Linked DNA regions of Homo sapiens: region 1 is linked to region 2. The links come from fine-mapping of genetic effects on gene expression. A gene starts in region 2. The other region holds a variant in brackets. All regions are shown on one strand. Distances are between the middles of the regions.

Region 1 (5,499 bases), 27 kb after region 2:
TTTAAAAGCTGGGTGACATAGTTAAAGTGTAATGTTTTTATTAGTTTTTCTCTTGTTTGTTATTTGTTTATGGGATCAGTGTTGTCATCAGTTTAAAATAATGGGTTATAAGATATAGTTTACCATGGAAGCTTCATGGTAAACTAAATTCAAAAACCTACAACAGATACCAAAAAATTTTTTAAAAAGAAATTAAAATATACAACCAGAGAAAATCACCTTCACAATAAGGAAGACAGGAAGGAAGGAAAGAAGGAAGAGAAGACCACCAAACAACATGGCAGCAGTAAATCCTTACTTATTAATAAAACATTGAATATAAATGGACTAAAGTCTCCAATCAAAACACACAGAGTTGCTGAATGAATAAAAATAAAGACCCAATGCTCTATTGCATACAAGAAACACCCTTCACCTATAAAGACACACATAGATTAAAATAAAAGGATGGAAAAAGATATTTCATGCCACTGGAAACGACGAAATAGCAGGAATAACTACATGTATATCAGAAAAATAGATTTCAAGAGAAAAACTGTGAAAAGAGACAAAGTCATTATATATAATGCTAAAGGGATCAATTCAGCAAGAGGACATAATCTTTGTAAATATATATACACTCAACACTGGAGCACCCAGATATAAAAGTAAATATTATTAGAGCTAAAGAGACAGATAGAGTCTGACACAGTGATAGCTGAAGATGACAACACCCCACTTTCAGCATTGAACAGGCCTTCCAGACAGAAATGGACTTAATCTGCACTATAGAACAAATGGACCTAATAGATATTTATAGAACATTTCATCCAACAGCTTCAGAATACCTATTCTTCTCAGCACATGGATCATTCTCAAAGAAATACTATATGTTAGGCCATAAAATATGTCTTGAAACTTTTTTAAATTGAAATAATATCAAGTACCTTCTCTGACCACAAGGCAATAAAAGTAGAAATCAGTAACAAGTGGACTTTCAAAATGCTACAAACACATGGAAATTAAACAGTCGTCTTCTGAATGACCAGTGGGTCAATTAAGAAATTGAGAAGTTGGGCTGGGCATGATGGCTCACGACTGTAATCCCAGCACTTTGGGAGGTGGAGCCAGGCGGATCACGAGGTCAGGAGTTCAAGACCAGCCTGACCGACATGATGAAACCCTGTCTCTACTAAAAATACAAAAATTAGCCGGGCATGGTGGCACACACCTGTAATCCCAGCTACTCAGGAGGCTGAGGCAGGAGAATTGCTTAAACCCAGGAGGTGGAGGTTGCAGTGAGTGGAGATTGCGCCATTGCACTCCAGCTTGGGAGACAGAGTGAGACTCCATCTCAAAGAGAAAAAAAAAAAAGAAAGAAATTGAAAAGTTTTTTGAGGCCAGGCGCATTGGCTCATGCCTGTAATCCCAGCACTTTGGGAGGCCAAGGCAGGTGGATCACCTGAGGTCAGGAGTTCGAGACCAGCCTGATCAACAAGGTGAAACCATGTCTCTACTAAAAATACAAAAATTAGTCGGGCATGGTGGCGGGCGCCTGTAGTCCTAGCTACTCATGAGGCTGAGGAATTGCTTGAACCCAAGAAGGTGGAGGTGGCAGTGAGCCGAGACTGCGCCGCTGCACTCCAGCCTGGATGATGGAGCAAGACTCTGTCTCAAAAAAAAAAAAAAGAAAAGAAAAGTTTTTTGAAACAAATGATAATAGAAACACAGCATGCCAAAATCTGTGGGATACAGAAAAATAAGTACTAAGAAGAATGTTTATAGCTATAAGTGCCTACATTACAAAAGTAAAAAAAAAAACTTTAAATAAACAACCTAATAATGCATCTTAAAGAATTAGAGATGCTAGAGCAAACCAAACCCAAAGTGAGTAGAAGAAAATAAATAGCTGGGCGCAGTAGCTCACGCCTGCAGTCCCAACACTTTGGGAGGCTGAGGCAGGTGGATCACCGGAGGTCAGGAGTTCGAGACCAGCCTGACCAATAAGGTGAAATTCCATCTCTACTAAAAATATAAAAATTAGCCAGACGTAGTGGCAGGCACCTGTAGTCCCAGCTACTCAGGAGGCTGAGACAGGAGAATTGCTTGAACCCGGGAGGTGGAGGTTGCAGTGAGCCAAGATCACGCCACTGCACTCTAGCCTGGGCAACAGAACAAGACTCTGTCTCAAAAAAAAAAAAAAAAAAAGGAAAATAAAATAATAAAGATTAGAGCAGAAATAAATGAAACTGAAACAAAGAAAACAATACAAATGTGTTCAACAAAATGATTTTTTTTGTTTGTTTGTTTTTTGTTTGTTTTTTTTGAAATGGGGTCTTGCTCTTATCACCCAGGCTGGAGTGCAATGGCAGGATCTCTGTTCACTGCAACCTCTGCCTCCTGGGTTCAAGCAATTCTCCTGCCTCAGCCTCCCAAGTAGCTGGGATTACAGGCACCCACCACCATGCCCGGCTAATTTTTGTATTTTTAATACAGACGGGGCTTTGCCATGTTGGTCAGGCTGGTCTCGAACTCCTGACCTCGTGATCTGTCCACCTCGGCCTCCCAAAGTGCTGGGATTACAGGCGTGAGCCACCACGCCCGGCCGAGAAATTGGTTTTTTGAAAAGTAAACAAAATAAAAAATCCTTTAGCCAGACTAAGAAAGATAAACCAAATAAAATAGAAGTGAGAAAGAAGACTTTACAGCCAATACTGCAGAAATTCAAAGGATCATTAGAGGCTACTATGATCAACTGTATGCCAAAAATTGGAAATTATAGAAAAAATGGACAAATTCCTAGACACATATAACTTACCAAGATGAATTATGAGGAAATCCAAAACCTGAACTGACAAATAGCAAGCAATGAGATTGAGGCTGTAATAAAAATTTTCCCAGCAAAGAAAAGCCTGG[G/A]ACCCAATGGCTTCACTACTGAATTTTACCAAACATTTAAAGAACTAACCCCAATCCTACTCGAACTATTCCCAAAAATAAGAGGAGGAGAAAATACTTCTAAATTCATCATACAAGGTTGGTATTACCCTGATACTAAAATAATTTTTTTTCTATTTCCATTTCAATAAGAAATAAGAAAAAGTAAAACAAAGACATATTTGAACCTAATATATTCTTCAGTGATATCATTCCTTTACTGTAAGGAATACTTTTTTTTTCTTTTTTCTTTTTTTTTGAGATGGAGTCTTGCTCTGTCACCAGGCTGGAGTGCAGTGGTGCGATCTCGGCTCACTGCACCCTCCTCCGCCCAGGTTCAAGTGATTTCCCCTGCCTCAGCCTCCCAAGTAGCTGGGACTACAGGAGTGCGCCACCACGCCTGGCTAATTTTTTTGTATTTTAGTGGATACTGGGTTTCACCATGTTGACTAGGATGGTCTCGATGGCCTGACCCCGTGATCCGCCCGCCTCGGGCTCCCAAAGTGCTGGTATTACAGGCGTGAGCCACCACGCCTGGCCGGAGTACTTGTTTTTCAATACCACAGGAGCTATGAGCTGGTCCTCCATTTTGTATCAAAGAATGTGTCCCCAGGTGACAAGATGCAGATTCCAAGACATTGAATCAATATGATGCCACCATCGCTTTCTTTCTGTTCTATGACATCTTTCTAGTCTTACCTTACTATTTCCTTGGCTCTCAGTTGGTTTTTCCTGAGTTCTCAGAAATTGAAATAATACACACTTTGTAGAAATAAGAATTTCATGTTAGTCAAGTCTCTAGGATAGCCATGGGCTCCACTTAATTATCTCAGAACTTACAGCCCCATGTCCTCTGCTCACTATCCATTGAGATTTATGTGTTCTCAGACTTCACAGAAACTTTTCTAGCTACTTATGTCATTCTCAGTGGTAACTTCATTTATCCACAATATTAACTAATTTTCTCAGTCCAAGCTGTTTTCCAGAGGTAATCTCCAGTCCCCATGCCGAAACTATCATTGTACTTACTGCTGAAATGATAGTTCCTTCCCAGCAAGAAGGTGAGATTATTGTACCCAGAATCTTTTCTCAGGGTTCAAATATCCACTTTCCCCATGGCAGGAATGCTGACACTCCAGCCACGGTTTTGTAAATGTGAATTAGTAAATACCAACTATTCCCAGGTGAGTGTTGTGGGCAGCAAGCTACCCAGGTGCTGAGGCAAGAGACCGAGGGCATGAGCCATTCCAGTATAATAAAATATATAAAACAACAAGAGTTATACTAGATCTAGATCATAGATGTAATTATATATGAATATCATTAATCATTAGTTTGTAGCAATTACTCTTTATTCCAGTATTATAATAATACTCGCTCTATAATCATAACCTAGAAAAAACCAGGCCATACAGAGATAGGAGCTGAGGGGACACAGTGAGAAGTGACCAGAAGACAAGAGTGCGAGCCTTCTGTTATGTCCAGACAGGGCCACCAGAGGGCTCCTTGGTCTAGCGGTGATGCCAGCATCTGGGAAGTCTGGTCTAGCGGTAGCCTTAGTGTCAAGGAAAAACAACCGCTACTTAGCGGACCGGGAAAGGGAGTCTCCCTTTTCCCCGGGGGGAGTTTAGAGAAGACTCTGCTCCTCCGTCTCTTGTGGAGGGCCTGACATCAGTCAGGCCCACCCGCAGTTATCCGGAGGCCTAACCATCTCCCTGTGATGCTGTGCTTCAGTGGTCACGCTCCTAGTCCACCTTCATGTTCCATCCTGTACACCTGGCTCTGCCTTCTAGATAACAGTAGCAAAATTAGTGAAAGTACTAAAAGTCTCTGATATGCAGAAATAATGGTGTAAGCTGTCTCTCTCTCTCCCTCTCTCTCTCTGCCTTGGCTGCCAGGCAGAGAAGGGCCCCGCGTCCAGTGGACACATGACCCACATGACCTTACCTATCATTGGAGATGACTCACACTCTTTGCCCTGCCTCTTTTGCTTTGTATCCAATAAATAACAGTGCAGCTAGACATTCAGGGCCACTACCAGTCTCCGCGCATTGGTGGTAGTGGTCCCCCGGGCCCAGCTGCCTTTTCTCTTATCTCTTTGTCTTGTGTCTTTATTTCTACACTCTCTCGTCACCGCACACAGGGAGAGACCCACCGACCCTGTGGGGCTGGTCCCTACAGAGTGTTACAATCAGAAGGAACCAGTTCTGCTCTGAGGTTGAGACATACTCTGAGGGACCTGGAGACATGGTGCAACCTCCTCTCCTTGCCTTATGCCTCTCCTCTATATTTCCTCTGAAACCTTCTTTGAATATTCTTCCTTCCATTACTGACTGAAAATATTAAGCCTCACAAAGTCCACTGTAAGATCTTTACCAGTGGGAAATGAAGAAGACTGTTTAAAGTATTTGAGTGGCCATTTAGTGTCTTTATAACATTTTTTGGTTATGCATTTTTGTCTTTTTGGGGGCATGATTTGCAAATTGAGTCTCTGGTATTTTACTAACTTGTGTTTGATGAGTGAAAGAGTTAATACTTCCTCTCCCATTAGTGAAAGGAAAGACACTTCAGAAACATGAATAAAAG
Region 2 (5,226 bases):
TGGTCCTTAGCCCCCATTCTGCCCTTCCTGGCCAAATAACCTGTACCACCATGCCTAAAGATTAACCCTTGTAGGCCGGATGCGGTGGCTTACGCCTGTAATCCCAGAACTCTGGGTGGCTGAGGCGGGTGGATCACCTGAGGTTGGGAGTTCAAGACTAGCCTGACCAACATGGAGAAACCCTGTCTCTACTAAATAAATACAAAATTAGCCGGGCGTGGTGGCGCATGCCTGTAATCCCAGCTACTCGGGAGGCTGAGGCAGGAGAATTGCTTGAAGCCGGGAGGCGGAGGTTGTGGTGAGCCAAGCTCGCGCCATTGCACTCTGGCCTGGGCAACAAGAGAGACACTCCATCTCAAAAAAAAAAAAAAAAAATAGAACAACCCTTCTAAATGTAATCCACAGCTCACTCACCTTAGTCCACACAATGACCACCACATTTTGGATGTCTCCATTCTGAAGCACTCCCCAGATTTCCAGACCTGGGTGTTCAGCCACCTACTTAATGCCTACTTAATGTCTCTGAAACATCTCAAACTCTTACATGACCAAATAAAGCTCCTGTTGTCTCCAGTGAATATTACTGTTAATACCAACTTCTCCATCTCAGTTGAAGAACCATGGGGTCATCGCTGAATCCTGTTTCACTCCCTCGCTGTCTACATCAGAAAATTTAGTTGCTCCCTTTAAAAATTTGCATCCAGAATGCAACACATCTCCTAATCAATGACTCTGGTCCATTACCCTGGACTGGCTGTAGCTTCCACTCTGATCTTCTTTCCTCTTCCCTCAACCCCACAGTCTGCTCTCCACGCTAACGGGATGGACCCTGTTAGGACTTTGGTAAGATCACCTCCCTCTTGTAACCCAAATCTCTCATTACCTCCAGAATAGGTACCCAACTTCTCAGGCAGCCACTGCAGTCCTGACTCCTTCCCCCTGCTCTTTGTTCCCAGCTAAAAGGAAACAGATCTATGGTTTCCTCAAAAATCTCAGCTTAGTTTTACTAAGCACTTGCGCCTCCTGATACCAGTGCCAGAGATAACCTTTCACAAGTTTCCACTGGCTGACAAAAATGGGAACACCTCAGTATAACCCCTGTAACCTCTGGCATGGACTTAAGAGCCCTGGGCTTGGAATTTCTCCAGGGCACCAGACCCAGGATTGGGGTAACAGCACTTAAGAATACTAGGAAACCACAATCCCAAGAACATGGGGGTAGAGGCTACTGAGGGACCGAACACTCTCCACTTCCCTATGTGAGTTCCATACGCCCTTCTACAACTGGGAGAACCAGGGAAAGAGGAATGCATCCCTGGTGAGGCTAGATGAGCTCAAGCCTCCCTGTAGCCCTGCCTGGCCCTGAACTCAGGCTGGCTGTTTTACTTTCTGGTCTCAGTGCTGTCACCTCTTGCCAACTGTAGGGCAATGAAAAAAAGATGTAGCCTCCCACTATCTCAATGTCCTCATCGCCCCATCGCTGCTCTTCCTGTGAACAGTCTTTGGAAAAGTTTTTAAACCCTAACATAGGGCGGGCACGGTGGCTCACGCCTGTAATCCCAGCACTTTGGGAGGCCGAGGCAGGAGGATCACTTGTCAGGAGTTCCAGACCAGTCTGGCCAAAATGGTGAAATCCCGTCTCTACTAAAAATACAAAAAATTAGCCGGACGTTGTAATCCCAGCTGCAGGCTTGTAATCCCAGCTGCTGGGGAGGCTGAGGCAGGAGAATCGCTTGAACCCGGGAGTCGGAGGTTGCAGTGACCCGAGATCGCGTCATTGCACTCCAGCCTGGGCGATAAGAGCGAAACTCCGTCTCAAAGAAAAAAAAACTAACATAAATGGCGTCCCTCCTTTGTTCAGAACTCTCCGTGGCTTCTAGCATCCTCACAATGACAGTACAACCCTAGGAGTAACTCCGCCTCATATTCTTCGTTCCCTGCAGAAAACAGCTTTCCGAATTCTCCTGGCTCAGTCGCGCCTCAACCTTTGCACGCGCCGGTTCCTCCGCCTGTCACGCTCTCCCACACCTCGTCACACGCAGTGTCAAAAAAAGGGCCCCACCCACGAACGCCTCAGTGTCCCCGACCCTGGGCAGCGGGGACTCGAGCAGGCGCCCCTCACTGATGGCTTTAGAACGTGGGTGGGGGAAGGTGTGTGAGGACGGGAAGACGCCGCACTCACCTGAGTTGGCGTCCTCAGAGTGGCCGCTGCCATCAGACTCTGCGGGTAGAGCTGGGCCGGGAGCGACGGGCGACATTGGTAGGGACCCGGGGACAGCGGTCCCTATCCCAGGCCTGACGTGGGTCCCCCAGGGCGGCGTCGCCAAGGCTTAGACGCTTTCGTGCAGGAGGGACGACGACTCCCCTCACGCCTTCGTGGCCCCAACTCGGCGCTCTGCTATCTCTGATCCGGTGAACACACCTCAGAGAAGCTAAAATGGCCGCCACGAAGAGGCCCCCCCAAAAGTCCCGTCCTTTCTTTTTGTGACTCTCAAGGAAAGTCGGTTTTCTGAGCTCTTACTGGCTTAGTAGCGTGGCGTTCAACGCAGAGCATTCTAGGTAATGTAGTTTTCATAGATCCCGAGGTGGGTGCCGGGGACCCTTTGCACCAACCTCTTGGAGTAAAAGCGAAGCTCCAGGGCGCTGGGCGATGAGAAATGGCTTATCCAAGTCCTAGGGCAGTGGAGGGACTTCGCCCTTTCTTAAATGGGTCGTAATCAGACAGCATATTAGAGGTGCCATCTGCAACTGATCACCCAAGTGTTTGGGGAATATTATTTCAAACTTCATAAAGTTCAGCAGGCTCCCAGAGGCTAAAATTATTATCAGACGCTCCCTAAGGCTGCCAATCCAAATATGTACATCATTCCATAGAGCCATTCAGACACGAAATATATCCACTAGTAGGGAAGCTAATAAACATTACCATATAAGTTTATTCCTTTTTTTTTTTTTTTAAGACAAAGTTTCCCTCTGTCCCCCAGGCTGGAGTGCAGCGGCGCCATCTGGGATCACTGCAACCTCCGCCTCCCGGGTTAATCGATTCTCGTGCCTCAACCTTCCAAGTAGCTGGGACTATAGGCGCGCGCCACCACGCCAGGCTAATTTTTTGTATTTTCAGTAGAGACAGGGTTTCACTATGGTGGTCCCAAATTCCTGGCCCCAGGTGATCTGCCCGCCTCGGCCTCTCAAAGTGCTGGGATTACAGGCGTAAGCCACCGTACCCAGCCTCTATCATATTACATTTCAAATGTATGCACTCCGAAGCATTGAAGTCAGTCTGTGCACTTTTGGTCAGGGACAGGTGAAAAACTACTTCAGATAGTGGCATGATAGTGCTTCTAGAAGATAGAAGAGAAATGTTAGATCACCTTGAAACAGTAGTACAAAGGTAGAATTCTGTCTGATTCCAACAGAAAACATCTTTTGCCTGCATAGTCAATTATTGTGTCCAATTACTGTGTCCAGTCAATAACTGTGTCCAATTCACTGAGCAACGCTTTTATCCATTTCATAATTCTTACTTGATATCTGAGATATATTCCTTCTAGAAGTCTAACATCAATCTCAAAAAACAATGAAAGAAATGCTACTTTGATAAGAGACAAAGGGGAGAGGTGGGACTTCTTAATCAGAAAGCCGGTGAAATGCACTTGAAGGAAGTGAGAAATGAGCCATGTGGGTATTTTTAGAATAAATTCCAGGCAGAAGAAGCAGGTTACTAGAGTGCCTGGATGGATGGAGACTTCACAGGGCATTTCAGCATTGGAGGGCCTAGGGCTCCAACCCAGCAGGCCTTCATCTGCTTTGCTGGCTGCAGAGACACTCAGGGTATATAGGTGAGAAATCTCTTCTTTTTTTTTTTTCTTTTTTTTTGAGATGGAGTTTCACTCTTATTGCCCAGGCTGGAGTGCAATGACGCAGTCTTGTTTCACTGCAACCTCTCCACCTCCTGGGTTCAAGCGATTATCTTGCCTCAGCCTCCCAAGTAGCTGGGACTACAGGCGCACGCCATGACACCCAGCTAATTTTTGTATTTTTAGAAGAGACGGGGTTTCACCATGTTGGCCAGGCTGGTCTCGAACCACTGACCTCAGGTGATCCACGCATCTCGGCTTCCCAAAGTGCTGGGATTACAGGCATGAGCCACCGAGCCTGGCCGAGAAATCTCTGCTGCTTTGTTATAAAGTTTTGGAGCCGCAAAATAAATAGCACTCGAATATAAAATTTTCTTTTTAATTCTCAGCAAGGTAATGTACTTTTTTTTTTTTTTTTTTTTTTGAGATGGAATCTTGCTCTGTCACCCAGGTTGGAGTGCAGTGGCGCGATCTCGGCTCACTGCAAGCTCCGCCTCCCAGGTTCACGCCATTCTCCTGCCTCAGCCTCCCGAGTAGCTGGGACTACAGTTGCCCACCACCATGCCTAGCTAATTTTTTGTATTTTTAGTAGAGACAGGGTTTCACCATCTTGGCCAGGCTAGTCTTGAACTCCTGACCTCATGATCCACCCACCTCGGCCTCTCGAGGTGCTGGAATTACAGGCGTGAGCCACTGCGTCCGGCCCCAACATTTATTTTAATGTTCAGATTCTCCCAGATGTTTGGACAGTGGGAACTCATTAAAGCTGTGCTCTCTGCTTTTTTATGTCAATATTATTGATAATTTCATTACTTTCTAATCCAAAAATATTTTCAGGCTCATGTTGTACCCTTGCTATCCCAGCCCCAGAATCAGCCTCTTTTTCAAGGAGCTCTGGTTTTCTTCAATAGATAACAATGCTTGTAAATATTAGTAAGCATTAGCTGTGCTCTTTTCTACTGGTAAATCATTGATTATTAGGTCCTCTTGGAGAGAAAGCAGATACATACACATGCACGCACACATTTTTTTTTTTTTTTTTGAGACAGAGTCTTGCTCTGTCGCCCAGGCTGGAGTGCAGTGGCACGATCTCGGCTCACTGCAAGCTCAGCCTCCGAGGTTCACGCCATTCTCCTGCCTCAGGCTCCTGAGTAGCTGGGACTACGGGCGCCTGCCACCACGCCCGGCTAATTTTTTGTATATTTTTAGTAGAGACAGAGTTTCACCGTGTTAGCCAGGATGGTCTCGATCTCCTGACCTCGTGATCCGCCCGCCTCGGCTTCCCAAAGTGCTGGGATTACAGGCGTGAGCCACCGTGCCCGGCCACTTGCACACATTTCTATACAAATTTATTTCTACATCTATATTT

Evidence for each region. PIP is the estimated chance that this variant, and not a neighbour inherited with it, causes the effect. A credible set is the group of variants that fine-mapping cannot tell apart.
Region 1: its variant is the best candidate, but not a certain one, in a credible set for the expression of ZNF154 in whole blood (TOPMed, PIP 0.82).

The regions. Positions count from the first base shown.
Region 1 is chr19:57,734,112-57,739,610 of GRCh38, forward strand. No RefSeq gene overlaps it. Among named protein-coding and RNA genes, the nearest start is that of ZNF671, 9.2 kb to the left of the region's middle. The variant G/A (reference allele first, on the strand shown) is at 2,896.
Region 2 is chr19:57,706,757-57,711,982 of GRCh38, forward strand. It overlaps ZNF154 (zinc finger protein 154), which reads right to left and starts at 2,448. Exons shown (of 3, transcript NM_001085384.3): 1 at 2,183-2,448. The coding sequence starts at 2,215. RefSeq lists enhancers at 2,036-2,675, 2,419-2,548, 2,569-2,628.